Regions from separate parts of the Homo sapiens genome. Here regions 1 and 3 are each linked to region 2. Evidence: fine-mapped expression QTL. A gene starts in region 2. Each other region holds a variant in brackets. All regions are shown on one strand. Distances are between the middles of the regions.

The links.
Region 1: its variant is fine-mapped to the expression of H2BC21 in whole blood (TOPMed, PIP above 0.99).
Region 3: its variant is fine-mapped to the expression of H2BC21 in whole blood (INTERVAL, PIP 0.99).

The regions. Positions count from the first base shown.
Region 1 is chr1:149,807,378-149,817,685 of GRCh38, forward strand. It overlaps H2BC18 (H2B clustered histone 18), which reads right to left and starts at 4,993. Exons shown (of 1, transcript NM_001024599.5): 1 at 4,502-4,993. The coding sequence starts at 4,946. The coding sequence ends at 4,566. It overlaps H3C13 (H3 clustered histone 13), which reads right to left and starts at 6,316. Exons shown (of 1, transcript NM_001123375.3): 1 at 5,848-6,316. The coding sequence starts at 6,304. The coding sequence ends at 5,894. RefSeq lists enhancers at 4,653-4,732, 5,956-6,245. The variant C/T (reference allele first, on the strand shown) is at 5,820.
Region 2 is chr1:149,879,046-149,888,574 of GRCh38, forward strand. It overlaps H2BC21 (H2B clustered histone 21), which reads right to left and starts at 7,637. Exons shown (of 1, transcript NM_003528.3): 1 at 5,414-7,637. The coding sequence starts at 7,595. The coding sequence ends at 7,215. It overlaps H2AC20 (H2A clustered histone 20), which reads left to right and starts at 7,873. Exons shown (of 1, transcript NM_003517.3): 1 at 7,873-8,366. The coding sequence starts at 7,930. The coding sequence ends at 8,319. H2AC21 (H2A clustered histone 21) reads right to left here and starts at 8,920. Exons shown (of 1, transcript NM_175065.3): 1 at 8,424-8,920. The coding sequence starts at 8,871. The coding sequence ends at 8,479. RefSeq lists enhancers at 6,181-6,230, 6,240-6,833, 6,611-6,690, 7,101-7,190, 7,261-7,550 and 5 more.
Region 3 is chr1:149,841,146-149,851,089 of GRCh38, forward strand. It overlaps H3C14 (H3 clustered histone 14), which reads right to left and starts at 63. Exons shown (of 1, transcript NM_021059.3): 1 at 1-63. The coding sequence starts at 12. H2AC18 (H2A clustered histone 18) reads right to left here and starts at 1,605. Exons shown (of 1, transcript NM_003516.3): 1 at 1,073-1,605. The coding sequence starts at 1,553. The coding sequence ends at 1,161. H2AC19 (H2A clustered histone 19) reads left to right here and starts at 9,916. Exons shown (of 1, transcript NM_001040874.1): 1 at 9,916-9,944. It also overlaps the pseudogene H2BC19P, a transcript of H4C15 not described here and the pseudogene H2BC20P. RefSeq lists an enhancer at 4,180-4,943. The variant T/C (reference allele first, on the strand shown) is at 3,028.

The DNA of each region.
Region 1 (10,308 bases), 71 kb before region 2:
GCTACTCAGGAAGCTGAGGTGGGATGATCACTTGAGCCTGGGAGGTCAAGGCTGCAATGAACTGTAATCATGCCACTGCACTCCAGACTGGGTGACAGAGCAAGACCCTGTCTGGGAAAAGAAAAAGGCATGGCGGGGGGGGGGGGGGGCGGGCATGGTGGTACACACCTGTAATCCCAGCACTTTGGGAGGCCGAGGCAGGCAGATCACCTGAGGTTGGGAGTTCGAGACCAGCCTGGCCAACATGGTGAAACCCCATTTCTACAAAAATACAAAATTAGCTGGGCATGATGGCTGGCATCTGTAATCCCAGCTACTCGGGGGGCTGAGGCAGGAGAATCGCTTGAACCCGAGAGGCAAAGGATGCAGTGAGCCGAGATTGTGCCACTGCACTCCAGCCTAGGTGACAGAGCAAGATTCCATCTCGAAAGAAAGAAGAAAGAAAGAGAGAGAGAGAGAGAAAGAGAGAAAAGAAAGAATAATCACACCCCAAGAAAATCAAGCTAGGACCATGGTGAGCAATGCTCCAAGAGTGTTCTGATGCTGTAAACTGAGTATGATGTGCATAAATTGTTTTGCACTCTGCAGGTAGGAGGGTGGGATAGCCAAAGCTGTTCAATATAATAATATTAAAAAATAAAATCTCAATTGAAGTAAAATACAAATTTTCTTAAGCAATATTTTAAAGTAAATGGAAATGTTACAACCTGGATGAGGGGTGAGGAATTAATAACCTCTAATCACAGAATAAAAATGGAATGAGAATTCCATCTACCCAAATCAGACAATTAAAAAGTTGAAAGAGGTTACAGTAAAAACTGGGTAAAACTAAAACTTAAAAAATAATTTCAGAGGATACATGATATACTCGTCACACAGAAAACTCCAGTTGAACCTTATGGACTTGAGGAATGGATACCTTTGTGTCTCCATCACTTAGCACAGTAGCTGGCACCATGTAAGTTCTCACAGAATTTTCCTGAACTCTCCAACCAGAGGCAACCTTTCACTCTCCATTCACATAACATTTCCTTCTTTCTCTTCTTTTGGGAATAACATATCTTGCTTGAATTATATTTATCTTTATGCCAGTTTAATTCTCTCTTTTAGATTCATTTACATCTTTGTATCCTCTAGCTCATTATTTTTTCAAAATAAAATGGATTAACATAAAAAATTATTAAAGAGATAAACTAAAGGAAAATATTACAACCTGGCTGAGGGGCAAAAATTTTATGTTCAACATATATTTGATAATACATACTGAGAAAACACGGTCTACTTTTACTTTTCAAAAGTTTGTTCATGTTGACATTGTGGGGCCTAGAAGATTTTTATCAAGTTTTCTATTTTTGCCAAGTCATATGATCTGCTATAGTTCAGCTATAGTTAATCAAATGTAGAAAAGAAAAAAATTTTCCATAATATCTAGTAATTCTCCAAAACAAGCTTGTTCCTAGTTAAACACTGACATTCTTTGGTAACTCTCACTTTATCCCACAGAGGTCATGTACTTATTTCCCATCTGTTGTCCTATGCTTACATTCCAAATTCAGTTGCATTGACTTTTAGAACAGCTTTAGGAACTGCACCCAGTTTTAAAATACATTATTTGTCTAAAAATTATGACATGAGATTAAACTGTCATCTTTGTAGGTTTCTACACATACTCCAACTCATTCACCAATCCTTGAAAAGATTATGTAACCAATCTCAATGCCCTGACCCAGGCCAAGCCCATTTCTACATGTGCAGTGTTCTCTGGATCTGATATTTAAAGCCCCTTATCCTGATACTACACACCTTTTGTCTTCTGGAATGCACCTCTCTTCTCATCCTTTTTCAAGGCACTAGAAAAGCAGACCATTTCTGCAGCACCTCAAACCAGGGTGAGAAAGCTCCACTCTAATCTCATCATTTTAGCTACATAGATACATCGGCTCAAGGGAAGATGCCAAGTGTAGTACTTTACCACTCTGAGGATTTTTGAATCTATAACAGTTGTTTCAACTGGGCCAATAATTATGAAGGGCAATAATTAAAAGAGTATCCATAGTAAAGGAGTAAGAAAAAAAGTTAGAAAAAAAGTAGAGAAAAATATTTACTAGAGTATTTACTAGAACCCACCACTCTCAGATCAATTTTCTAGTGTTCTGTTGACTGGCAACCAGTCAACAAACTTTCATTGAGAAGCTATTTTATAGTAGGCATTGGGATAGCCTTTGTGGAATAAATACCGAGAAGCATATGTCTCTAGCAGAAGACAGACAAGAAAATGTAAAAACAAGAAAAAGAAATTGAGGAATAAGCCTACAGTTTAAAAAGCTACACAATTATTCGTTATGCAAGGAATGAGGCCTTAAGAGAAAGACTTCCCTGTGAACTACAATGAGATGAAAAAGCTTCTCAGAGTGAGATTTGAGCAAGAGTTTAAAAGAACTGACAGACTGATAAAAAGCTTCAAGTAGTCCAGAGGACTGAGTACTAAAACTCAGAACAATGTAACAAAAGCACAGAAGACAAAGTTAAAATGCTTTACATGACAGTAGAACATTTAGGCTAAGCTGGAGGACTGGGGAGAACAAGTGAAGAAGGTAAGTTTTGGCTAGATAATAGGTGGCCTTTAGTGTCAGGATGAGGATTTGGAAGTTAATCTTTTGGTCAGTGGATAATAAATGATGGCATTTGTGTAGTTGAGCCAGTTGACAATGCTTTAACAACTTCAAAAGGCCCTGAAAAACATGGTCCCTAATCCTTAAGAAAAAAGGAACTCCTGACTTCAGGACCCTAAGCTAGGAGGAAATTGGATAAATTCTCTTATGGCCCAACTGTATAGAAAATAGACCACCTCGGCCGTCTCACTTACTGAGTAACCTTTCCTACCAGAGAATGTGCTATATATGATTTCTTTACTTTCAACGGAAATTTTGGATTCTCAGTTATCTTTCCCTGACCTCTTGTCTGGTGATCAGAAAAAGATGACTAAACTGGGAATCTTTATTTTCTAGTGGAAAAAAAAAATCATGTATACCGCATTTTATATCTTTTAATTGGGTGTAAATTTGAATTTCAACATCATAAAAATTAGTAAAATTCATTTTAAGCACAAAGTTGTTAATTCCCCCAAGATTTATCAAGAATGGCTTAATTTCAAAGGCTGTCAAGTTAATTATAAGCTAAGATTTTCCAGTTGCACCAAGGGTATATTTTATTTGGCAAAAGAAACATCCACTGGCTTTTGTCAGGATGAGTCTTGAGTTATTCAAGTTTTGAACTGAGAGGTCTTCAGAAATTCACCCCACATATTAACTGTGGCCTTCTCTACACCACAAATTCCCCTCCACTCATCCTCAAATTGTTTCCTTTCTCAGGACATCTGTGACACAAAGACTGTGACACACCCACAGGTCGATTAACATGAGGACCCAACACCTATTAAAACATCCACACTCCTGAGAACACTAAAAACCAACCACCTCGTCAGGTCCCACCTCCAGTCTAGCTGAATCAGGAAACCTCAGGAGAAGCACCTGGAAGCAGGTTTAACAAGCGCAAAGGTGACTCTTATAATTGGGAAAGTTTGGAACCAAGACAGGGTTCTTGTCCTGGAGGAAGTATTTTCCTGTGGAGAAGGACCTGTAAACAGCCTATGAAGTGCTCAGCTTTCACCAAGAAAAGAAAAACATGGGCTGATAGGGTTAAGGAAACGTTTGACTGAAGAGGATTAAATCCTGAAGGTTAGGGATGTCTTTGGGCGCTGGGGTCTCTCAATCACCAAAGATCGACATTACAGGCCAGGTAGCTCTTTGTCCCCCCAGAGGACTGTCCTGTGCCTTATGCTTAGCACTCCTGGCCTCTGCCCATTGGATACTTCTAGCACCTCCCCCGCAACACACACACACCTGACAACCCAAAACATCTACAGATATTGCCAAATACTCCACAGGGGGTGGGGTGGTGGCAATATATCTCCCTGTTTGAAGTCACTGGAATGGAAGTTAGGGGAGGATGGCTAAGTCAGGACTTGCAAAAAGGCTAAGGGACGAAAGCACATGGCTATATTAGACAAAGTTTGTGACAGACGCCTGTAGGTATATGGTAAGGAAAACAGATTAAAACACTAAGAAATAGTAAGAGGTCGGACCGAGGGTTTCTCATCTGTATGGGAAATCTCATCTCGTTCATTACTTTCAGAAACAAAAAGGAAAACGACTTTAAAGATACAGGTTAAAGGCCGAAGGGGTGTAGAACCACCCCCCGCCTCCTTCCCTCCATCCCTCCCAAATATCCCAGAACGAGTCAAACCTTTCGAATCTCGTAGCACAGATAACAAGCAACTCAGTAAGACTGGACGGGGATGACTGAGGGCCAACTCATTACAGGACTACAGGAAACTCCTTAGTCCTAAACCCGAATGCATCCGTGACCATGGTAACACTCCCTACCTGACCAAAAGCTATCAAACGCTCTGACAAGTGTTTACAGCTGCTTTCTCGATTACTGAAGTGGCTCTGAAAAGAGCCTTTGGGGTTAGGTGGTTGATCTATTGCGTCCCTTGCACACTCTTACTTCGAGCTGGTGTACTTGGTGACCGCCTTGGTGCCCTCGGACACGGCGTGCTTGGCCAGCTCGCCGGGCAGCAGCAGGCGCACGGCCGTCTGGATCTCGCGGGATGTGATGGTGGAGCGCTTGTTGTAGTGCGCCAGGCGGGACGCCTCTCCCGCGATGCGCTCGAAGATGTCGTTGACGAAGGAGTTCATGATGCCCATGGCCTTGGACGAGATGCCGGTGTCGGGGTGGACCTGCTTCAGCACCTTGTACACGTAAACGGAGTAGCTCTCCTTGCGGCTGCGCTTGCGCTTCTTGCCGTCCTTCTTCTGCACTTTCGTAACAGCCTTTTTGGAGCCCTTCTTGGGAGCAGGAGCGGATTTCGCTGGATCCGGCATTTTTGCGCGAAAAAAGAGAAAAGAGACTTAAAGAAGTAATCCGAACTACCGCAAAACGGGCTGGTTATGCGCTACTTATAGAGCCCGTATGCAAATGAAGACTCGCAAAGTGCTGCGCTTTCATTGGTTAACTTACAACGGTGTCGTCAGAGGGGGTGGAGTCTATGTAAATAATAGATTCTAGTCTTGCTTCCTTAATGGTCACTGTAACAAAAGTCTTGTTATCCTATCAGAATGGTCCATTTCACACTAACCAGTTTTAAGCTAGGTGAAGCGATAGTTTCTACGGCTTGGGGTTTTTTCTTGGTTTTCACTTTCCATTAGACTTGCATACGGAAGAAATCTTAACGCCAGCTAGACAAGTTAACTCTCTTGCCTCGTTTTTGCATTTTTATTCTATACTTTGTGGAAATTTTTTTCTCTTCCTTGAAATACTACCTCACCCATTTTTAAAAATCGCCAGATATTTACTCCCGCCCGCTTAAATTACTATTCTGGCTTGGACACCGCCTGTAGTATGCAATGAGGAAGATGCTGAGCTTTAATTAAGCTTATAGTTCCTAAATAAACCAGGAAACGGGTTTATAATTTTTAAGGGACTCGCCCCACCCTTACACTCAGGATCTTCCACATCTAGAAACTCCCCATAGTCTCTTGCCCCCATGCAAAACTTTACCCACAGAATTGGGAGCCGGACCTCTAGCCTTAAACCAGCGTGAAAACGCTCGGCCGGAACCACAAGGACCATGCCTCTGCGGCTTTCTCTACTGCCGGCCAACTCACGGCTGGGCTTTGGGTTCTGTAACGTCACCCACCACGAGTGCCCCTGGCCCCTGACCGCTGCGCAAGGCAGACGCACATCAGATGGAGAGC[C/T]GGTACAGCTGCTCTTGATGAAAACGGCAGTGGCTCTGAAAAGAGCCTTTAGATCGACCACTTAAAAATATGCCTTAGGCCCGCTCCCCGCGGATGCGGCGGGCCAACTGGATGTCCTTGGGCATGATGGTCACGCGCTTGGCATGGATGGCGCACAGGTTCGTGTCTTCGAACAGCCCCACCAGGTAGGCCTCGCTGGCCTCCTGCAGCGCCATCACGGCCGAGCTCTGGAAGCGCAGGTCCGTCTTAAAGTCCTGCGCGATCTCGCGTACCAGCCGCTGGAAGGGCAGCTTGCGGATCAGCAGCTCCGTAGACTTCTGGTAGCGCCGGATCTCCCGCAGAGCCACGGTGCCGGGCCGGTAGCGGTGCGGCTTCTTCACCCCGCCCGTGGCCGGCGCGCTCTTGCGGGCCGCTTTGGTAGCCAGCTGCTTCCTCGGGGCCTTGCCGCCGGTCGACTTGCGGGCAGTCTGCTTAGTACGGGCCATGCTGTCTCATTGATAGGAGAGGGTCTAGGCAGTCATATTTATAGACATAGTCTCCTCTTGATTGGGCCTGAAAAGGAAATTTTCAAACTTGTGATCTCATTGGTTAAAATTCAATCCTCTTTACTGGGGCGGAAGATTGTTCTGCTAATCTTTCTTCCCTTATTATTTCCCCCTTTCCTGATTTTTTTCTGTAATTTTATCGATCACGGATTGTTTTTGAAGACTTTCCTTTAAATTAGTCTAACTTTTGTAAAAGCAATGTATAAAGTGTTTTGCATCCCATTTTAACAGAGATTTTTTTTTTCCCCGAATTCAAGCATGCCCTTCTATGAGCTATCAGCCTGTTTCAGGTTACCTGTTACTGTAGCTCTTCTACCATAGCTAACATTTATTTCATGTCTGGCATTTTGCTCAGCAAGTTAGATGCATTGTATACCATGAATGACCGAAGCTTAGCAAAAAAATATGTAATTGAAGGAATGAAAAAATTGATCTTATTTACTTGACCTTGGAACCCAGCCAAAGCCATTTCATGTGGGTAGTGTGCTGACCTATATTGACCTGATATTAGAGCCTCTGCCTTCCTTTAGTCTTTTCTCCCTGCGATGTGGTTCCTTCTTCCTCAACCTCACATCAATGGCCAATTAGGTCCTGCAGATGTTAAGCTTCTAAATCAAAGAAGGACAACACCAGAAATTCATTTCTCCTTTACAATGTAGAATAGTTTGTAAATTAGTGCTTATTAGCCAGATTACAAGTTCAAGTTTCAAAGCAAATTATTCATCAATTGCTGACTTGCTAACATTTTATTCAATAAAGTATTTTATAATGCTTAAAAGTTTAGTTTTTTTTCTGTTCTCTATGAAGAGAGTAAAGATGCTTTGCTTTTTCAATTTCATGTGCTTTGAAGTATGTATTGTTCAGAACAGTAAATATCATAGTGGTTATGTAGAAGCAACTGATACTTAAAAGTTGTAGTAGTTAATATAAAACTTTTAATCATATCCTTATTTTACTAAAAAAATCATTACAAACTATAAAAACTCAAACCTGAGAAAAGCAGGCCCGAAACGCTTAAAACTTACTTTGATGGTGTCATTATGAACTATCTTCCTACTGAAGTCAAAGTAAAGTAAAAGTGATTTCAAGGGGACTTCCTGAACACTAAACACAAAGTAGAAATCTGTGAGCTTAATTAATATCTTCAAGAGTCTCTCATGGGCAGAAGCATCCTCCTCTCGAGAGATCTAAAATGTACAAAAGTGTAACTGATGTGAACAAATGTTATCCCTCTCTGTGGTAGTTTTGTAATAATGCCTTACAGACAGCAGGCACTACTCAGTGTTTAAAGTTCTTCTACATACACTTTATCATTTAATCCCTACTCTGTGAAATAGATGTTACTCTTCTCACTTTACAGATAAGAAAACTGAGTCTCAGAGAAATTATGGCTTGTCCTGGGTAAGTAACAAAGCCTGTGTAATATTCTAAAGCAAAAGAATGAAACTGTAATGATGAAACTTTCTATTTCATTAGGCTTAGAGGATACCTTTTTTTTTTTTTTTTCATTTGAGATGGAGTCTCACTCTGTCACCCAGGCTGGAGTGCAGTGGTAGGATCTCTGCTCACTGCAGCCTCTGCCTCCTGTGTTCAAGCAATTCTCCTGTCTCAGCCTCCTGAGCAGCTGGGACTATAGGCGCAAGCCACCACCCCCAGCTAATTTATTTATTTATTTGTATTTTTAGTAGAGACACGGTTTCACCATATTGGTCAGGCTGGTCTCGAACTCCTGACCTCAGGTGATCCACCCTCCTCGGCCTCCCAAAGTGCTTGGGTTGCAGGCATGAGCCCCACGCACCCAGCCAACACAGTTTAAAGCACAAAAGCGTTTTCCCATCAAGCAATCACATCATCTAGTATTTCTCAAACATCTACACCCAACTATTCCCATTAGAAGGGAAAACTACCCCATGGAATCTGGATGATAGCCCAAAGCAGCCCACCCAAGCATCACATTTCTTTGCAATATACTTTCTCTATGATGTATGCAGTCTTGACCATAATGTAGGATGTGTTCATTTAAATAAGAAAATGGCATTCAATCAGACTTTAATGGCTATAGGTATCATTTCTCAGAATAAAACAATCAGATGTATAGTTGCCTTAAAAGTCATCTTTAATAACAGAATTCAGATCAATTGTTAGTTCAATTTCACCTAGTCCCCACATTGGACACTAGAGTGACATTTCTGTGAAAGGTCTCAATCCACCACTATATCAGAAGCAACTTTATGGTGCAAAAGAAGCTCTGCTTTTCTTCAGTTGTAACAAAGACGGAATATTCCTCCTAAAATTTTTGAAGTGTCCTTCAGCAGAAATTATAAGGCTGTGCAGCTTGAATACTGAGAACAGAAATTTCATTAGGTAGCACGGGGGAATAGACAAGAGAAGATTAAAATTTACCTAACAAGAAATAAGAAGGCAAAAGAAAATATTAATAAATGAATTATTACGCACATAATGTTTTGTATGTACATGTGTTTACTTTTAATACAAAAGTAACGGACTAAGTTAACATAGATGTTCCAATAAGATAATTTATGTTTCATTTTTGGCTTCAAGTATCCTCAGGGTTATAAGTATCATAAGCTGAGACCAGCTGAATTGGTTTGTGGGTTGATGAGGCCCTATGCCTGATTTGAATTTCTCTTGAATGGTCTGCAGCCCTGGACCAAGTTGAAGAAGCCATGAGAGTCTCAGCTTTTTTCCTTACCCCATTATGAGATAAACTCATTCCTTAAATATCTTGCTCATTTGATAAAACTTGGCACCTTTCTCCTTTCTACTGGTCCCTAATACTTACTACCTGTACTGTAAGCTCAAATTTTTTGCAATTTCTGCCTTTATTATGTAACGTATTCCACTGGAATATGTGTTACAGGAAAGGGGTCCCGATCCAGACCCCTAGAGAGGGTTCTTGGATATCCAGCAAGAAGGAATTCAGGGCCAGTCCATAAAGTGAAAACAAGTTTACTAGGAAAGTAGAGGAATAAAAGAATGGCTACTCCATAGAGAGAACAGCCCTGAGGGCTGCTGGTTGCCCATTTTTATGGTTATTTCTTGATTATATGTTAAACAGGGGTGGGGGGGTGGACCACGCCTATAATCCCAGCTACTCCAGAGGCTGAGACAAGATCATTTGAACCCCGGAGGCAGAGGTTGCAGTAAGCTGACATCGCTCCACTGCACTCCAGCCTGGACCACCCAGGGATAATCCGTCCCCCGCACCCCGCCCCCCCAAAAAAATCACTGCCAGTAAGGAACAAACAGCCAGGACGAAGTACTAAGATGTAAAGAGATGTAAAATAGCCCGGGCGCGGTGGCTCACGCCTGTAATCCCAGCTCTTTGGGAGGCCTAGGCGGGCAGATCACGAGGTCAGAAGATAGAGACGATCCTGGCTAACACGGTGAAACCCCGTCTCCACTGAAAATATTTTTTTAAAAAAAATTAGCCAGGCGTGGTGGAGGGCGCCTGTAGTCCCAGCTAATCGGGAGGCTGAGGCAGGAGAATGGCATTAACCTGGGAGGCGGAGCTTCAAGTGAACCCAGATCGCGCCACGGCACTCCAGCCTGGGTGACAGTACGAGACTGTGCCTCCAAAAAAAAAAAAAAAAAAAGAAAGATGTAAAATAATGTGATACATTCTGCAAGAGTTATGACAGAGTCAGAAAGGGGCAAGCATGTTTCTTCTCTACCCTGAAGCAGCCAAGGGAGAAGAAGATATCTGTTGCCAACGCTGGGGTGTTACAAGTGCACACTGCCATGCCCGGCTAATTTTTTGGATTTTAGTAGAGACAAGGTTTCACTGTGTTGCCCAGGCTGGTCTCGAACTCCTGAGCTCAGGCAATCCACCCGCCTAGGCCTCACAAAGTGCTAGGATTACAGGCGTGAGCCACCACGCCCGGCCTATATATGCATATTTTTTTCTAACACTTACATACTTT
Region 2 (9,529 bases):
GTCACTGCAACCTATACCTCCTGGGTTCAAGTGATTCTCCTGCCTCAACCTCCTGAGTAGCTAGGATTACAGGCACCTGCCACCATGCCCGGGTAATTTTTATATTTTTAGTAGAGCTGGGGTTTCACCATGTTGGCCAGGCTGGTCTCGAACCTCAGGTGATCTGCCTGCCACGATCTCCCAAAGTGCTGGGATTACAGGCATGAGCCACTGCACTCGGCCTAGTGAGCTTTTTAAAAGAGGGTCAATGCCTTCCCTGAATTAGATAAAGTGGAAGCAACAGAGATGCTCTTCTGCTGGCCATTAGAAGCAAATATCCATGCTGTGACATGCCTGTGGAGAAGGGCAGCCTCTGAGGGCCTCAATTCTACACCTGCAAGAAACTGAATTCTGCCAACAACGTGGATGAGTTTGGAAGACCCCAGGCTTCATATGAAAATGCAGCCCAGTTGACACTTTGATTTTACCCTTGTGAGATTCTAATCAAATACTCCCACTATGCCATGCCCAGACCTACAGAAACTATGAGAGGCTAAAGGAGTATTGTCCTAAGCCACTTAATTTGGGGTAATTTTTTACACATAAATAGAAAACTAAAACAGTTTTTTGCCTCCTTCATTCAGAACATGGTTTTTGTTTATCTTCTCTCTCCCTGCTGTCTCTATACTTGTCTAAGACCTCATTACTGGTTGCAGCAGCCTCCCCACTGGTTTCTGGTTTCCTGTATTCTCTTTCTTCTATGCATCCTGCACATTTCTTCAGAATAAAGATACAAAGGTCATAATAACCTGCCCAAAATATTGCTCTTGACTTGCTCAAGAACCTATACCAACTCTCCCAGGCCAGTTCCATCAACTCTGATTTTTAGCTAGTTTCACAGTTCTCGATGACCCAGGCCTCCTTAAAGAGCCTGACTGGCTCTCTTAGTCCGTCTGATGACCAAACCTGTGACCGAGGACACATTAGTGAAGTTAACTAGTCAGGAAAATCACTCCAGAGACTGCCTCCTGCAAAGCAAGTGTTCATAATCTTGAGGGATTTTTAAAAAATAGGTTAGGAATAGTGGAGACTCAATCCCAAACCTATATGTTACCTCATCCACCCTAGGGACTTCTGGAGTTTTTGTTGTTGCTGTTGCTGCTACTGTTATTAAGTTGATTGCTATTTGCATTGATGAAGTTTTTTTAACCATTTTTTAGAATTAACTACAATGTATTGAGAGCCTACTCAGTGCCAGGCAGTAGAACAGGTATTTTTAAATACATTATTTTCAACAAAAAAAAATCTTATAGGCTTTTTTTTAATGGCCAATAATCCCACTGTTCACATAACCTCTGCTGACATTGTTTTTAAGTGAACATTGATCATAAATTTAAACAGTACTGAAAGATATAAAGGAAAAAGCAAAATCTTTTGGCCCAAGGAAATTCTTCTCCTTAAGAGTAGCCACTATTGGCCGGGTGCGTTGGCTCACGCCTGTAATCCCAGCACTTTGGGAGGCCAAGGCAGGTGGATCACGAGGTCAGGAGTTCAAGATCAGCCTGGCCAACATGGTGAAACCCCGTCTCTGCTAAAAACTACAAAAATTAGCGGGGCATGGTGGCACGAGCCTATGGTTCCGGTTACTTGGGAGGCTGAGGCAGAAGAATCACTTGAACCCGGGAGGTGGAGGTTGCAGTGAGCCACGATCGTGTCACTGCACTCCAGCCTGGGCAACAGGGCAAGACTCCATCTCAAAAAAAAAAAAAAAAAGAGTAGCCACTATTGGTCAGGCACAGTGGCTCATGCCTGTAATCCCAGCACTTTGGGAGGCCGAGACAGGTGGATTACCTGAGGTCAGGAGTTTGAGACCAGCCTAGCCAACATGGTGAAACCCTGTCTCTACTAAAAATACAAAAAATTGGCCAGGCGTGGAGGCACGCACCAGTAATCCCAGTTACACGGGAAGCTGAGGCAGGAGAATCACTTGAACCTGGGAGGTGGAGGTTGCAGTGAGCCAAGATCGTGCCATGGCACTCCAGCCTGGGCAACAAGAATGAGACTCCATCTCAAAAAAAAAAAAAAAAAAAAAAGGGTAGCCACTATTATTAGTTTTGTTATGTGAAATCCCCGGAAAGTGTTTTATTTCATATCGGTGCATACATATCAATACACACATATCCTTTTTTATTTCCACCAAAAGGGACCCTAACATTTTATTGCCACATACTAGTAGATATACAAGTAGTTTCCAGATATTTACTATTAAAAATAATAATTTTTCCCAGCGATTTGAAAAGAAGTGAGAGGATCACTTGAGGCCAGGAGTTCAAGACCAGCCTTGGTACCATACCATCTCTACAAAAAACTTAAAAATTAACTCAACGTGGTGATGCCTACCTGTAGTTCTAGCTACTGGGAAGGCTCAGGTGGGAGGATCAGTTGAGCCTAGGAGTTTGAGGTTCCAGTGAGCTATGATCTGGCCACTGTACTCCAGCCTAGGTGACAGAACAAGACCCTATCTCTAAAAAAAATAATAATATTCCTCTTTACTGAAGTATTCCAGCTAATATATGAAAGAAGAGTGACAGAATATCATTATTTTGCAATTGATAATGAATTAATTGATCTAAGCATTGAGAATCAATCACTGCTGTTACCACAAAAAAAGAAGCAGCTAGACATTACATGTCTCCTGATAGAAAAGAAATAGTACCACCTATGAAGTAGTCATGTCATGGGGTGAAAAACTAAACCTAAATCTAATCAAGCCTCTAAGTACCAATTTACAGAAAATAGAGCACAGAGGCTCATGATAAACTACATCCTGAAGACAACTCTCTAAAGAGCACATATTCGGTTCCCCTGATCCACCCATCATTCTACTGGAAGCAGAGTTGTAAAGAAAGGCAAACTATAATGAGAAGGCCACCTGCAGCACACAGAGGCAGGTGACCATGGTAGTTGGTGTCAATCTGGTTGGCCTGACAAAGCCATTTCCACTTTAAGGGAAGCCCTGTTGCAGGGAACAAACACACACTTTTGAGGGTCAGGGTCCATCTGCTCCAGAAAGTGCTTGATGGGCATAAACCATGTGGTCTCTGAGACTTTAACTCTTCTGTTTTTAGTGCCACACAGCTCCTTTCTGTTCCCATAGTCAGGTCAGCCTAGGAGCTCATTGGTTTCTTTAAAGGCAGTTTATACATTCTGGCCTAATCCTGCAAGATCTGGCTCTGTCTACCTGTGTAACCTCTTGATGCTGCACTGTCCTCCTTGCCCTCTAACCACCACCTGTACTAGACTTCCTGCAGTTCTTCCTATCTACCTGACCATGATCTTTTCCACTCTTTCCAGGCCTTTGCCCATGCCATCCACTGCCTGGTACACCCTTCCTATCCTTGTCAAGTGTCATCCTAAAGGTTCTTTCCTCAGGGAGGCCTTCCCTACACCCACCAATGTGAAGTTACGACTCCCTCCATTATACTCTCTATATCTATACTTCTACAGTCGTAATACTTGTCACACTTTCTCATAGTCACTGGATTAATATGTCTTCTCTTCTAGTCACTAGAGGTCCAGGAAGGCAGAAGCCACGCCTGTTCAATTTTCTGTCCTCACTACCTAGCAGATTGCCTGCCATCTTCACAGATAATAAACTCTTGAATGAAAGAACAAATGATATCACACCTAACAATGCTTAGGAGTCAGAGAGAAGAAAATTGGTCCCAGAATGCCGTTCTTATAGAATTTAATAATGTGCATAGATACTTAATATTTATAAAATTAGTAGATACAGATTTTCAATCACACATATTAAATGAATTATTAAACCTAGTCCCCTCGGTTACAGGGACAGTCTCTCACTTAAGGGTCAATTTCTGAAACCCAAACAGAGCTGCCCTTTAGGCCTACTCCAGAATTATTGATAAGCCATATTACAGAGCTATGACAGTGTCCTTTTGGTCCTTCATTTTTTTTTCCTTTTTTTTTTTTTTTTTTTGAGATAGAGTCTTCCTCTGTTGCCCAGGCTGGAGTGCAGTGGCGGCAGCCTCCACCTCCCGGGTTCTAGGGATTCTCCTGCCTCAGCCTCCCGAGTAGCTGGGACTACAAGTGCCCACCACCATGCCAAGCTAATTTTTGTAGTTTTAGTAGAGGTGGGGTTTCACCATGTTGGGCAGACTGGTCTCGAACTCCTGACTTCAAATGATCCACCCACCTTGGCCTCTCAAAGTGCTGGGATTACAGGTGTGAGCCACTGCGTGTGGCCAACAGAACCTATCTTAAAAAGTGGCTGTAGGCTGGGCGCAGTGGCTCACGCCTGTAATCCCAGCACTTTAGGAGGCGGGTGGATCACGAGGTCAGGAGATCAAGACCATCCTGCTAAGTAAGTGTAAGGTAAACTCTTAGCTTACTGCTAAGTAAGTTTAAGGTAAACAGTTAAGTGCTTAGTAAGGGGAAGCAATCATTATTTTAACAATTATTGTTATTAACCCCAACATAAGCAAATGTTTAAAGATGTCTGAGCAGGAGAAACGATCAAAGAGGTTCTTGAGGATTAATCTCACCAATTACTTCCCCTCCAGAGTTAAAATATCAAAATCTATCACCTCTTCCCCCCCTTCCTCACTCTATAACATCCTTCCCAGTGAACATCATCCCCAGGTGGAGCCCAAAACCAGCAACTAAGGCTCTCTCATGTTAGTGAAAGGATTCCAGCTGGTGAGCCCCACCACTGTGGGGACAAACTCAATTGAGTTGAGCTATGGCCTCTGGGATGAAGGATCACAGCCACCTAATCCCACCCTCAATGTACTCAGCCACCACCACCCAGGATTTATATCCAGGGTGCACTCTGAAGAGAATAAAGCCAGTGGTATTTCTTTTCAATTCTAAAGCATAGATATTTCCCCCTAAAACACAGGAAGGGTCCAGGTTTTCAGAATGACCCTGTTTCTCAAGTCCCTTAACTGCTAACCTAGGAGCTTATTCTCTGGAGAGTTTCTGAAGAAAGGCTTCTCTTTGCCTCAGTTTCCTTATCTGTAAAATGGGTGATAATAACGGTACTACTTCCTGAGGTCCCAGTGAGAATTAGATGAGTCAATACATATAAAGGGCCTAGGACACTACCTGGCACGTAGTAAGTGCTCCGTAGGTGTTAGCTTAACTTTATTATGAACTTTATTTCTTCCATCTTATTTGTACTGCTGTCTATTTGTGATCATATATTTTTCAATTACTAAGCATTAACAGTGGCCTTGTAACAGACTATTTCAGCCCCAGTGCACCTTTGGGGCAGCAGTTTGGCTGGTGGCTTATAAATAGTCATCCCCCAGATCAGAGGCACCCACGCTTTTCTACAGACACAGTGGAAGTTGTATCTGTTAATTTCATTCATTGAGAAAATACACTGTAGATAAAAGAATCCAGCAAAGCCTTTAAATTAATTGGTAACTTTATTAATAACAATAGCATCTATACACATTTGAAAACACACATGTAGGAGACAGTTAAGATCTATTCAGTCTGTGATAATGTCTAGAGCTCATTTGGATTCATCAAACCCCTGCCATCAGCTCCAAAAGCCCTTAGCCAAAAACAGCTGAATCACTCATCAAACCATCAGTGTCTTCCTCGGCAGAATCAAGGGTTGGACAGAAAGAGTAAATATTCTGCACCTCCACAAAATAAAACTAAAATGCAATTGTCCTGCATCTGAGAATACAAGGGTGGACAGTATGAGCTGCATGACTGTGAACCAATGAGGCTTCTCTTGGCCTCATTTGTAAAAAGGAGATTAACTCTGTAGTCCCGCCTATATTGCATGGCCTCCAGAAAAGCAAATGAGGTGGTAAGTGTAAATTAAAAGCTCCTCTCCTTTAAGAGGGGAACACCATGAGGGGAGAGTAAGAAAAGGAGAAGGAAAAGGCTCTTTCCAGTGACCAACACGCTGAATTTGATGAAAATCCATAAGAGGTTATGCTAAACTGAGAAGCATAAGGGTGGATCTACCATTGCCACCTCCTCTTTGTAGCAAAAAAAATCTTAACACGGCCCCCTCCCAGCTGTTGCACTGAGGTGACTAAGGATACATTTTGAGGAAGTAGCTCCAAGAACATTTCCATTTTCACTGTGCCTTCACATACATCTAATGGAAATGAACAGCACCCTTCATCCATCCACGGAAGCGATTAAGAAAAGGGTGGGATGGAAAAATTAACCCAACAATATTAGATCAATACGTAGTATTTAAGTGTCCATAATGTGCCAGGCTGAAGATGCACGGGAAAACCACACTAGCCGGTCTGTCAAGGGCTTGAGAATACCATAAACAAGAAAACAGACGAACCAATTTCAGACAGCTGCTAGAAGGAAGATAAAATGAGACAGGCAAGTATGAGAGGCGCGAATTCCTGAGTGGATGACGTAGGTCTCTGAGAGGTGACTTTTGAGCCCGTATCTACATGGTAAGTGCCTCGCAGTGACCTGGGGCCGTAGCGTTACCATTTAAAGCACAGACCATTAAATGCAGAAATTATCAACAAAATGAGAAATAGGAATTTCAAAGTCTCAAAGTGAACGACGGAAACTGAAATCTACAAATTAGAAAAAGGCGCAGAATTTTGAATATTCTTGTCGCCCAATCAGGACAAGGCTGGGACCCGGCTGCGCGGCCTTCGTCCAAAATACACAGAACGGCTGGTATCCACAGGAGGCCCCATCGCACGGCAGAACTGGTGACCGGACACAAAAGCTGCTGCCAAGCGTCAGTCATACAGAGCTGTCACGCAGTGTTTGCGGAACCCGGGCTGAATTGTGTCCTGGAGTTCTCTTAAATGACAGCCGAACTCAGCCACTTCGTTTTAGAATGAAACAGACCCAAGGAGCCACCAGGGCGCGTGTGGGGCGGGAGTGGGGGCGGGTAAAGAGGCGGATTCCCAACAGCCTAATTGAGAACCGACTCCTGGGAAGGCTAAGCAGCACAATGAGTAAAGACACGCTCTAGATTCAAAAGCAAATCCAATGACGCACTGGGGACCTCGAGTTCCAAATAGTTAAAAAGCTACGTATGCCATTTCCCATGACCTTCACACTAAAATAACTTACTTTATGAAAAGAAACTAAGGGAATAAGTGAACAAGCTCTTTTCTAGTGATTAGGTGGGTGGCTCTGAAAAGAGCCTTTGGAGTCAAGCAGCCGGCGACTCGAGCGAGCGAGCGCCAGGTCCCGGCAGGGACTCACTTGGAGCTGGTGTACTTGGTGACCGCCTTGGTGCCCTCGGACACGGCGTGCTTGGCCAGCTCGCCGGGCAGCAGCAGGCGCACGGCCGTCTGGATCTCGCGGGATGTGATGGTGGAGCGCTTGTTGTAGTGCGCCAGGCGGGAAGCCTCTCCCGCGATGCGCTCGAAGATGTCGTTGACGAAGGAGTTCATGATGCCCATGGCCTTGGACGAGATGCCGGTGTCGGGGTGGACCTGCTTCAGCACCTTGTACACGTAGATGGAGTAGCTCTCTTTGCGGCTGCGCTTGCGCTTCTTGCCGTCTTTCTTCTGGGCTTTGGTGACGGCTTTCTTGGAGCCCTTTTTAGGGGCCGGAGCGGATTTTGCCGGTTCAGGCATGGTAAGACACAGTACAAACGCGGCTTAGCCAAGAAAAGAAGTAAGAGAATGGGCGGGCCTGATTCTTTTATAACCACCTTATGCAAATTAGGGCTCCGAAAGTCGTTCATTTCCATTGGTCCGTGTGCGGACCTTGCGTTTTCAGCAATGCGTACGTAACAACACCGACTCTTGACTTGATTGGCCGGTTCTGAAGCCATATTAGGACCAATGAAAAACTCGTTCTTGACCCCACCCCTAGGAAAGCTTATAAAGGCTTTCCTCTTGGTTCTCTTTCAATCTTATTTTGTTGCGAGGTTCTGAGCGTTGTCTGTGTTTAACCTTGATTTCAGTCATGTCTGGTCGTGGCAAACAAGGAGGCAAGGCCCGCGCCAAGGCCAAGTCGCGCTCGTCCCGCGCTGGCCTCCAGTTCCCGGTAGGGCGAGTGCACCGCTTGCTGCGCAAAGGCAACTACGCGGAGCGGGTGGGGGCCGGCGCGCCCGTCTACATGGCGGCGGTCCTCGAGTACCTGACCGCCGAGATCCTGGAGCTGGCGGGCAACGCGGCTCGGGACAACAAGAAGACGCGCATCATCCCTCGTCACCTCCAGCTGGCCATCCGCAACGACGAGGAACTGAACAAGCTGCTGGGCAAAGTCACCATCGCCCAGGGCGGCGTTTTGCCTAACATCCAGGCCGTTCTGTTACCAAAGAAAACCGAAAGCCACAAAGCCAAAAGCAAATAAATGCAGACAAACAAACCAAGACCAAAGGCTCTTTTTAGAGCCACCCAAGTTTTCAAAAAAAGAGCTAATGCGCTATTTCGTGATCAGCCCTTCATTTGACACTTTGGTGGCTCTTAAAAGAGCCTTTGGGGTGAATGAGTATGGTGTCAAGCCTCTTAATTACTTGTTCTTGCCAGGCTTGTGACTCTCCGTTTTCTTGGGCAACAGGACAGCCTGGATATTGGGCAAGACGCCGCCCTGGGCAATGGTGACACCCCCGAGTAACTTGTTGAGCTCTTCGTCATTCCTCACGGCTAGTTGCAGATGGCGAGGGATGATGCGCGTCTTCTTGTTGTCCCGAGCCGCGTTGCCCGCCAGCTCCAGAATTTCCGCGGTCAGGTACTCGAGGACCGCCGCCAGGTACACCGGGGCGCCTGCCCCGACCCGCTCCGCGTAGTTGCCTTTGCGCAGCAAGCGGTGCACTCGCCCCACCGGGAACTGGAGACCAGCGCGGGACGAGCGCGACTTGGCCTTAGCGCGGGCCTTGCCTCCCTGCTTTCCGCGTCCTGACATTACGGCTAAAATTGCAGTTACAGCTTCTTTTACAAGGAGAAGAATGTGGAAAGAATAACCAATTTGATGTAATTTATAAGAGCTACCGGGAGGGGTGAAGGGAAGTCGTTTGATTGGCTAAAAGCGGAGCCGTATCTAACAGCCAATAGAAAAGCAGAAAGCCGCCTCTTGGTTTGCGTCCTGCACTGAAAGGAAATGACGGATTTTGTAAGTATCTACCAATCGCTGAGAGCCACATTAAAGCCCCTTATTTGCATGCCAGGATCTTTAAAGAGAGCAGGCTTTCAAACAAAATACTGGTTTTGTTTTACTGAGAGGCACTGTGGGTTTTTGTTTTGTTTTGCTTTGCTTTGTTTAGTTTACAGCCGGGAAATCCCAATATGGACCCTAAGGAACTGCAGAAGACATCCTTAGACGGAGAGTTACTCTCACGAAAGAGTAGGGGATTCTGAAGCCGATGATCCCCTTGAGCTCTAAACTGCCAAGTCCCGCCCTTTCTGTCTCGTCACAGCCAAATTCCCTTTAAAAATACATGTACTACTAAGGCTGCCTCCTTTCTCGCCCCTAAACTTAAGTCGCCCGCAGCGGCGTGTCTCCGCCCCACCCCCACCCGCCTGCACTCCTCGGAATCCGGTTTGACCGAGGCTAGAATAGATTT
Region 3 (9,944 bases), 38 kb before region 2:
AGTACGGGCCATAGCGAACCAAAACACAGGCTTACCAGCGCAGCGGCGGGGAGAAAAACGAGCTCCTAGCCCCGCCGCAGCCGTCTTTATAAGCACAGTCTTTTCCCGATTGGGCGGAACAATAATTGAAAATCCCGCGCTGGCTGTCCATTGGCTGTGACGTCACCCGTCCTAAAGTCACCGGTTGGCTTGGGCAGATTCCTCCCTAATCCCGCCCACCCCGCCTCACTTTCTACTTACCAGTTGGCGAAGTTTCGCAAGCTTGTTTTTCCCCTTTCCTTCAGGGTGAAAGTCATTTTCCATTGCAGCTTTGTCAGATTGTTCCCTTTCCGCCCTTCGCTTCCTTAGAACACACTGCCCGCAATACCCCCCCTTTCTTGCTGCGCCCTACAGCTCCCGCGTGGAACCTCATTCTTCCATTTGCCCCCCGCCCCCAGTTGCTACTTGGCGGATCGTTTTTCGCCTGTCGGGTGCCTTTTGGGTGGGAGAGGTGCCCGCCCCCAGGACGCAAGATTCCGCCTCCGAGGCCCTTACTCTCCGCCGCCAGGGCGCTTTGGAAAACAAAACAGAAACTAAGACTTAAGTCAGCTCAGTGAAGCCAAGACCCAGCTCCGCCACACTAGCGAGCACTACCCGCTCAGGGCCCTCCCCATCGGGGGTGGGGACGAGGAGCACGTCCCGCTGGTGCCAGACTAGGTCTAAGTGTCCGGCCATAGCCTGCGGAAACCACTAGGGAAGCGCGCGCTCCGCGCGCAACACTTCAGCGCGTTGGGTACTGCCCGCGGCGCTGGTGTTTGTGACTGTGTGGAGCGGACCGTGGCGGCGCCCAGGACGTTTGGTGCCTGCACCTGCCCTGGGAAGTCCTAGGACTGGGGACCCACTCATCGAAGAGCCAAGGCAGTTACGTGCTCCAGATGGAAGACGGCGCGCACACACACACACCCCGCCCCGCCCCGCCCCGTCCCGTCCCGTCCCGTCCCGTCCCGTCCCGTCAGCTCCAGGTTCGCTATTCACTACTGAGGAACGCTGGACTGAGAGTGGCCAGCATTAACAACTCTTTTATTTGAAAACGTGGGTGGCTCTGAAAAGAGCCTTTTGAGTTCACAGGTGCCCCTTCGAGACGCGGGCCGGGCTGGGCCCACTTGGGCCGGACGTCAGCCTCACTTGCCCTTTGCCTTGTGGTGACTCTCCGTCTTCTTAGGGAGCAGTACGGCCTGGATGTTAGGCAAGACGCCGCCCTGGGCGATGGTGACTTTGCCCAGCAGCTTGTTCAGTTCCTCGTCGTTGCGGATGGCCAGCTGGAGGTGACGAGGGATGATGCGCGTCTTCTTGTTGTCCCGAGCCGCGTTGCCCGCCAGCTCCAGGATCTCGGCGGTCAGATACTCGAGGACCGCAGCCATGTAGACGGGCGCGCCGGCCCCCACTCGCTCCGCGTAGTTGCCTTTGCGCAGCAAGCGATGCACTCGCCCTACCGGGAACTGAAGGCCAGCGCGGGACGAGCGCGACTTGGCCTTGGCGCGGGCCTTGCCTCCTTGCTTGCCACGACCAGACATGACAGCGATAGTAGTCACCGAGAGAAACTCCTGCCTGGCGATCGGGAAAGTCGCCGAAAACGCCGCTGCTTCACCTTTTTATAGACAGAACGGCGATTGTCCACGGAGCACTTTGATTGGCTCAAGCAAATTTTGTCCCGATAGCCAATAGGATAGCTCAGCCAGAATCCACTCATTTACATAATCTCGTCTCCCTCGCATTGCGCGCCGCGGAAAACTCGCGAACCATAACGCAGCGTCATGCGCACAGCCTCTGTAAGTACACAGTCGTTTCCGGTAGACCCCGAGCCTACCGCTCTGCTTGCGTTCTCGGGGGTCGGTGTCGGTCTTGGGTCTGGCCATGCCTGAGCCTGCAAAGTTCGCGCCGGCTCCCAAGAAGGGCTCCAAGAAAGCCGTCACCAAAGCCCAGAAGAAAGACGGCAAGAAGCGCAAGCGCAGCCGCAAGGAGAGCTACTCCATCTACGTGTACAAGGTGCTGAAGCGGGTCCACCCCGACACCGGCATCTGGTGCAAGGCCATGGGCATCATGAACTCCTTCCTCAACGACATCTTCGAGCGCATCGCGGGAGAGGCGTCCCGCCTGGCGCACTACAACAAGCGCTCCACCATCACGTCCCGGAGATCCAGACGGCCGTGCGCCTGCTGCTGCCCGGCGAGCTGGCCAAGCACGCCGTGTCCGAGGGCACCAAGGCGGTCACCAAGTACGCCAGCTCCAAGTGAGTCCCTGCCGGGACCTGGCGCTCGCTCGCTCCCTCCCTCCCTCCCTCCGCGGGTCGCCGGCTGCTTTGTCTCCAAAGGCTCTTTTCAGGGCCACTTAACCCCGTTAGTGAAATAAGCTGTTTTCCCACTGCTTACTGTGAGTTCTACTTAGGGGTTTTCCCTCAGCACCTATCCCTTTTCCTGCAGATGATGGGAGAGGAATATAAGATAAAGCTATAAGATGTAGCTTGGTCGAGAACTACCTTGTAGTGACAGGGTCATGTGCACATAATTTGCCTTTTCCAAAGTGAGACGATATGCTACGGGTGCGGTCAATGTAAATCTGCTCAGGAGAGTCAAGGGAAAAAGTGTTAACTGCATATTGAGCTCGCAAAATTGTGTAGTAACCTGAAAATATTCCTAATAGTTTTGCGACCAAGCCTCACCATATAAACTTTCCTTCCGCACCTGTAGACCTCCATTCTGTGGTTGAAGCAATTTTTGGTTTATATAGCTCTCTTGTCTCAATTTGGTATTCCTTTCAGGTACTGTGAGTCTATAGGTATTTATTTCTGGGTTTCAAGACGTTAAATGCCATCAGAATTGAGTAATGCAAAGGCTGCTGTCATGGATAGTAAAGCTTTTTAGTCAAGTGCTGATAGACAATTCCCCATTGTTATCGTTGGGTATTTTACAATTTTCTGGGCAAGAAATGTAATGAAAAATTAAGTAAGTTTTAAAGGCCTTCGTCTTTGAGACTGGATACCTAAAACAA[T/C]AGTGTTTCCTAAACAGTTAAAACTTATTTAACCCTGAAGCTTTCGAGACACACAAATATATACAAATATATATTGTATATTTCTTAAACCCCACATAGTTCCACTGATCTAAATCACTGGGGGCGAGAGGCAAGGATAGACAATCTATGACACAACACCAGGTGATTCATAAGTTTGGTAACCACTGACATTTGATTATGCAGTTGCCATATTCCTTAGTAAGAACCTGGTCACAATTTTCACTCACTACCCCAGGCAATTCCCCCTCCCCACACCCCCCTTTTTTCTGAGAATTTCAGTGAGATATACAAAAGTTTCATTTAATCCTTTATTAATTCCAGACTTTATATATTTTTATTAGGATTTAAAATACATTTCAAAAAGATCAAGTGAGAACAGAAGATAAAAGTACCAAGATAAAGGCATAATACAAACTTAGAAAATACATGTTAAGCATACTGCGGCGTCCTGGTAGCCCCTTGCTTTTGTTCACTTTTTTCTCTTATGTACCTACATAAAATCCCAAATAGTATCTTCCAGGATGACACACTTGCTGTCTGCCCCACCCAATTAAAAACAGATTTTTTAGTTATTAGGTATTGTGCTGAATCTACCTTATTTTATTGCCAAAAGAAAAAAAAAAAAAAGCTTTTCAAAGCTTCATCCCCAGGAAACATTTTCCTGCTTTTACACATACCTTATATGGCTCTACTGAGAGATAAGGCCTAAGCCTGAAAAGTTAATTTAAAGCATGGAGGTAGGGGTGAGACAGAAAGACAACAGGGAAAAGTTGAGTTTATAAGGTAAGTATATATCTTCCTTTTAACAGCCACCTGCATGGCGTTCGGTAAATAACCTAATTATATGTGGGGGAAGGTAGTGGTCAACATTTGGTCCTGGGGACTGAGAATAAGAGCAGGAAAGCAATAAACAGCTAACTATGAGAGTGACTTAATGTAATTATATTACCTGTCAATCGCTACTTTTCCTTTCTTACCAAAATTCACACAGGTATGAAAGCAATATGACATTCAGGCTCCATTATGTGTATTTGTGCACATCACTTCCCACGATAAGGGAGAAGAAAAGAAACCACTGCACATTCGGATAAAACATGCTGGGAATACAGCAGTAAACAGAATAGAAAAAGTCTACATTTTAATTAGCAGATAAGTAAAAATAAGTGACTAAATGTATATTATTCAGGGGGCCATATGTGCAATTGCTGTTAAGTAAAGCAGAACATGGAGTGGAGTAGGGATGACAGGTTTCATCAGTTAATACTTGAGCAGAGAGCTGAATACAGTAAGATAGTTGTAGGATATCTTGAGGCAGAGTATTCTCAGAACAGAACATGGTAAGTACAAAGGCCCCAAGGCAGGAACAAGCTTGGTGAATGTGAGAAATATGCAAGCTGGTTAATGTGGCTGAAGCACAGTGACCAAGGGAAAGTTTTACAGAGATCACGGAGGTGCTTGAGGGCTGGATTATGTAGGCCATTAAGGAGCATCACAGGCCACTGCAGAGATTTTGTCTTTTAAATGAGATAGAGTGCTCTTGGAGAATGTGACTGGAGAGGCCGATGGTAGCAGTGGAGATGCAGAGTAGTAGCCGAGATATTTTAAATGAAATTGATTTAGTATAGGCTGACTGAAAGAGAAATCAAGGATTAATTGTAGGTTTTTACACTGAGCACTTGAAAAGAGCTGCTATTTGCTGATATGAGTAAGGAGTAGTCTTGGAGGAAGAAAACCAAGAGTACTGTTTTGAACAAAATGTTGAAGACTCCTGGTAAATATCGAAGTGTAAATATCAAATAGGAAGTCAGAAATATGAGAATCTGGAGTTTAGGAAAGAGAAGGGGGTTAGGTTTGTAAGATCTCATATCAGTCTGATTCTTATTTTTTTGTAGATAATCTACCCTTTCTTTCTGTAAATGTTTAGAAGCATGATGTCTATGTGTGTATATATACACACACACTCACTCCCCCCCGCCAGGACTGCCTCAGTTTTCATCTCAGTATTTGACTAAAACCTTCTATTCAACTTCAGTTTCAGCCTTAGAATAACCAGATGTCTAAGTCAATGTCATTTGGGGCATCTCTAGACTTGTGCAATCACAAAAGTCACCATTACCGCTACATAGTACGTATTATGACCAATGGATATCATTCAGAGTTCTAGTTTACATATGCTATTATCAAACATATGTAAGCCTTTTAATGTAACTTGGGAGTGAAATTAGTAAAATTCTATCAATTTACATAAATTAATTTTACTGTAAAAATAAAATACATTATGAAAGTTTCTGTACTAATGTCTTTGATTACAATTTTTAAAGTATTTCCCATTTTTTTATTTTGAAAATTTTAAACCTACAGAAAAGTTGGAAAAAAAAGTACAAAGACCAGCCATAGTCCCTTCACCTGGATTCACCAATTATTACAATTTTGCTGCATTTGCCTTATCTTTGTCTTCTCATGTACACAGACAGCCTCTGAACCATTTGAAAATAAACTGCAAATATGTTGGCACTTCTCCCTAAATATGGTGGCATGTCTCTTAAAAATAGGATATTCTCCTAAATAGCTACAATCACATTATTACACCTAACAAATTTAATGCTGATTCAGTAATATTAATATGCAATCCATATTCAAATTTCTCCAATTATTGAAAAAATTCTATATAGATGTTGTATTAGTTTCTTGTGGCTGCTGCAACAAATTACTACAAACTCAATGGTTTTAAAACAACAGTCATTCTCTTACAGTTTTGGAGGTCTGAAGTACAAAATCAATTTTACTCGGTAGAAATCAAGGCTGCACTCCCTCCAGAGACCTTAAGGGAGGGTCTATTTCCATGCCTTTTCCAGCTTCTAGAGGTTTATTTCTGGTTTATGGTCCCTTCCCTCTGTCTTCAAAGCAAGCAGCCTATTAATCTTCAAATCCCTCTCTCCTTCTATCGCCTCCTTCTACACTTGACTTTCTTGCCTCTCCTATAAGGACTGTGGTGATTACATTTGGGGCCTACCTGGATAATCTGGCATAATCTCTCAATCTCAGAATCACATCTGCAAAATCCTCTTGGCTATATAAGGTAATATTCACAGGCTGTAGGGATTAGGATATGGACATATTTGGGAGCCACATTTAGCCTGCCACAGCCATTGACTACTGTTATGGGTTGAGTTGTGTCCCCCCGAAAGATATGTTGAAGTCTAACCCCTAGTTGCTTAGAATTTTGCCTTCTTTGGAAACAGGGTCTTTACAGAGGTAATCAAGTTAAAATGAGGTCTTTAGGGTGGGCCCTAATCCAGTATGACTGATACCCTTATAAGAAGACATGGAGACAGCCGGGTGCAGTGGCTCACATCTGTAATCCCAGCACTTTGGGAGGCCAAGGCAGGTGGATCACCTGAGGTCAGTTCGAGGCCAGCCTGACTAACATGATGAAACTCCATCTCTACCAAAAATACAAAATCAGCCGGGCGTGCTGACGCATGCCTGTAATCCCAGCTACTCGGGAGGCTGAGGCAGGAAAATTGCTTGAACCCGGGGCACAGAGGTTGCAGTAAGCCAAGATCATGCCACTGCACTCCAGCCTGGGCAACAAGAGTGAAACTCCATCTCAAGAAAGAAAGTAAAAAAACATGGAGACATACATGAAAAAACTGAGGTAGAGATTACAGTTATGCTGCCAGAAACCAAAGAACAAGTGGGGCTACCAGACACTGAAAGACAGGAGTCTTCCCCTAGTGGGTTTGGAGAGAGCATGGCCCTACCAACACGTTGATTTCAAACTTCTAGCCTCTAAAACCATGAAAGAATAACTTTGTGTTGTTTTACGCCATACAGTTTGTGGTACTTTGACAGCCCCAGGAAATTAGTACAACTACTAAAATTTTTTGATTTAGTTTATTTAAAATTTTTAAATAAAATTTCACATCTGAAAAAAAACCCTGGACATTTTTCCTGTGATGGTAATATTAGTCTTTAGCCTTAGTCAAGTATTAACATTTGGACATCTGTTCCAAATATGTAATTGGAGCAACTCTGTCCTAATTGACCCTATTTGACTTGAGACCTTTCATGAAAGGTCTTTCCTTTTATCTAGGAAATTATTATTCCTGAAATATTTCAAGATTCAAACTGGTATAAGTAAATATGTCAGACAAATTGGCTTAACTGGAAGTCCAAAGGTGCAGCAGGGATCCAAGGTTGGCTGAACTCCATGAGTGGCTCAGTTCCCTGATTCTCCCACACTGTGTCCTCCTCTGCATATTGTCTATAATCATTCTTGCCTTCATACCTAAAGACAGTCCATCCTCCTGCTGCCTCTTGAAAGCAAATAAGCTGCTTTCCCAAAAGATAATAGCATACTACACTCCCCTGCTGAGTTAGTTGTTACTCAGTTCACTTCCTGAAATGTTAAATGCCAATGAGTTTGATCTAGATTCCTGAACTAATCACAGTAAGAAGCAGGTTCAGACAGCAATTAAACTAATCAGGCCAACCCTAAGAACTGTGGGTAAAATGCGTTTCTGGGAAACACATGTGGCAGCACTATAACAGAAACAATTAGAAAAATAAATGCTACCTAGTCAATAACATACATTATAGGACTATGAACTACTAAGTTACACCTCATGACAAACACATGAGTAATAAAGTCTAGAAAAATACTTAAAGGTGATGTCCATCATTCTCATTGCTGTGTTCACAGTTCACAGGTAGACCCTAAAGACAGGCTTGTGTTGTCTTTACTGAACCCTAGATGCATCTCTCAAACTGTCAACTGCACATATCCACTTGAATAGCAAAGAGCTTCTCAAATTTCAGTCGGAACTCTGGATCTCCCTTCAGTGTCCCAACGAATATCTTCTCTCAGTGTTCTATCCTAATAGTACCACTATCTACACAGTTGCTCAAGCCAAAAATCTAGGGGTTTCACTGTTAGCTAAATCCTGTTCCTCAGCCACACCTATTAATTCTACCTCAAAGATAAAATCCAACATTTGTTTCCATTACCACCATTGCACTCCAGCATGTCATTTATCCGTTGTTTTTCACACTTTAGCATATATCACCATCACCCAGAAAGCTTAACACAAATAATGGAACCTGGGAATTTTCATTTTTAGTAACTTCAAGTAATGCTGATGCTGCTGGTCTGGAGAGACTTTAAGTCTTAATCACTGTTCCAGCCCACAACACTGCAACAGCCTCCTAATTGCTTTCCTCGCTTCTATTGTGGCCAGCCTAGGATTTACGATCCCCAGAGCAATCAGTATAATATTTTGAGGTTAATGAGGCTGTGTGATTCCAAGTCCAGTGTTCCCAAAGCAGAAAACAAACCTAATCAACCTCCCTTGCAAATTGGTGGTCCTTCTCCTCTTCAGGGATCCCAAACTCTGGCTTCAGAAATCGTATATTTTGTTGCTATTGTATGGAACAAACCCTTAAACTGGACAAGCTTTTCCGAGTGATAACTCTTGGGGAAAAAAACCATTTAATGGTATTGGGTAGATTTTAGGGTATCTCAACTAGAAAGCGCAGAAGGTTATCGGTGTTAACTCCTGGTTATCAAAATCGAACTTCCATCTACCTCCTTAAGGAATTTTCACATGAGTGGTGGTGTAGGCACGTGTTTGTGAACCAATGATATAAAAACCTCAGGTTTCTCGATACCATATATAAAAGTTGAGCTATTCCCTTTTAAGTACACATCTGAGAGCATACAATGCATTTAATCTCTACCTTCATTTTACCACTGAAGAGCGGACCCAACCTTTGTTCATATACACAATTTGATCTTACATAAACTTATCAAAATTAACACTGCGTTTCTCAACAGGAAACAATCTCCTGGGCACATATTCACGGGTACGTAACCAGGCCAAAGACAGTTCAAGAGCAGCCCTCTAAGGCAAGCCCCAACCTATCTATGCCATAGTAAGATACCACTATCAATCTATGTAAGCTTACTTATAGCAATGCCTATGTGAAAAGAAAATAGTTATCTGTGCTTGGTGTTGTGTGCTCTCCTAAAGTTAACCAGACGTGAAGCCAAAAACATCAACTGGGACTGACAACACAAGAAAGATTCTTTAACTGAGGTGGTTAAATGGCCCTGAAAAGAGCCTTTGGAGACAAAGCAGCCGGCGACCCGCGGAGGGAGGGAGGGAGGGAGCGAGCGAGCGCCAGGTCCCGGCAGGGACTCACTTGGAGCTGGCGTACTTGGTGACCGCCTTGGTGCCCTCGGACACGGCGTGCTTGGCCAGCTCGCCGGGCAGCAGCAGGCGCACGGCCGTCTGGATCTCCGGGACGTGATGGTGGAGCGCTTGTTGTAGTGCGCCAGGCGGGACGCCTCTCCCGCGATGCGCTCGAAGATGTCGTTGAGGAAGGAGTTCATGATGCCCATGGCCTTGCACCAGATGCCGGTGTCGGGGTGGACCCGCTTCAGCACCTTGTACACGTAGATGGAGTAGCTCTCCTTGCGGCTGCGCTTGCGCTTCTTGCCGTCTTTCTTCTGGGCTTTGGTGACGGCTTTCTTGGAGCCCTTCTTGGGAGCCGGCGCGAACTTTGCAGGCTCAGGCATGGCCAGACCCAAGACCGACACCGACCCCCGAGAACGCAAGCAGAGCGGTAGGCTCGGGGTCTACCGGAAACGACTGTGTACTTACAGAGGCTGTGCGCATGACGCTGCGTTATGGTTCGCGAGTTTTCCGCGGCGCGCAATGCGAGGGAGACGAGATTATGTAAATGAGTGGATTCTGGCTGAGCTATCCTATTGGCTATCGGGACAAAATTTGCTTGAGCCAATCAAAGTGCTCCGTGGACAATCGCCGTTCTGTCTATAAAAAGGTGAAGCAGCGGCGTTTTCGGCGACTTTCCCGATCGCCAGGCAGGAGTTT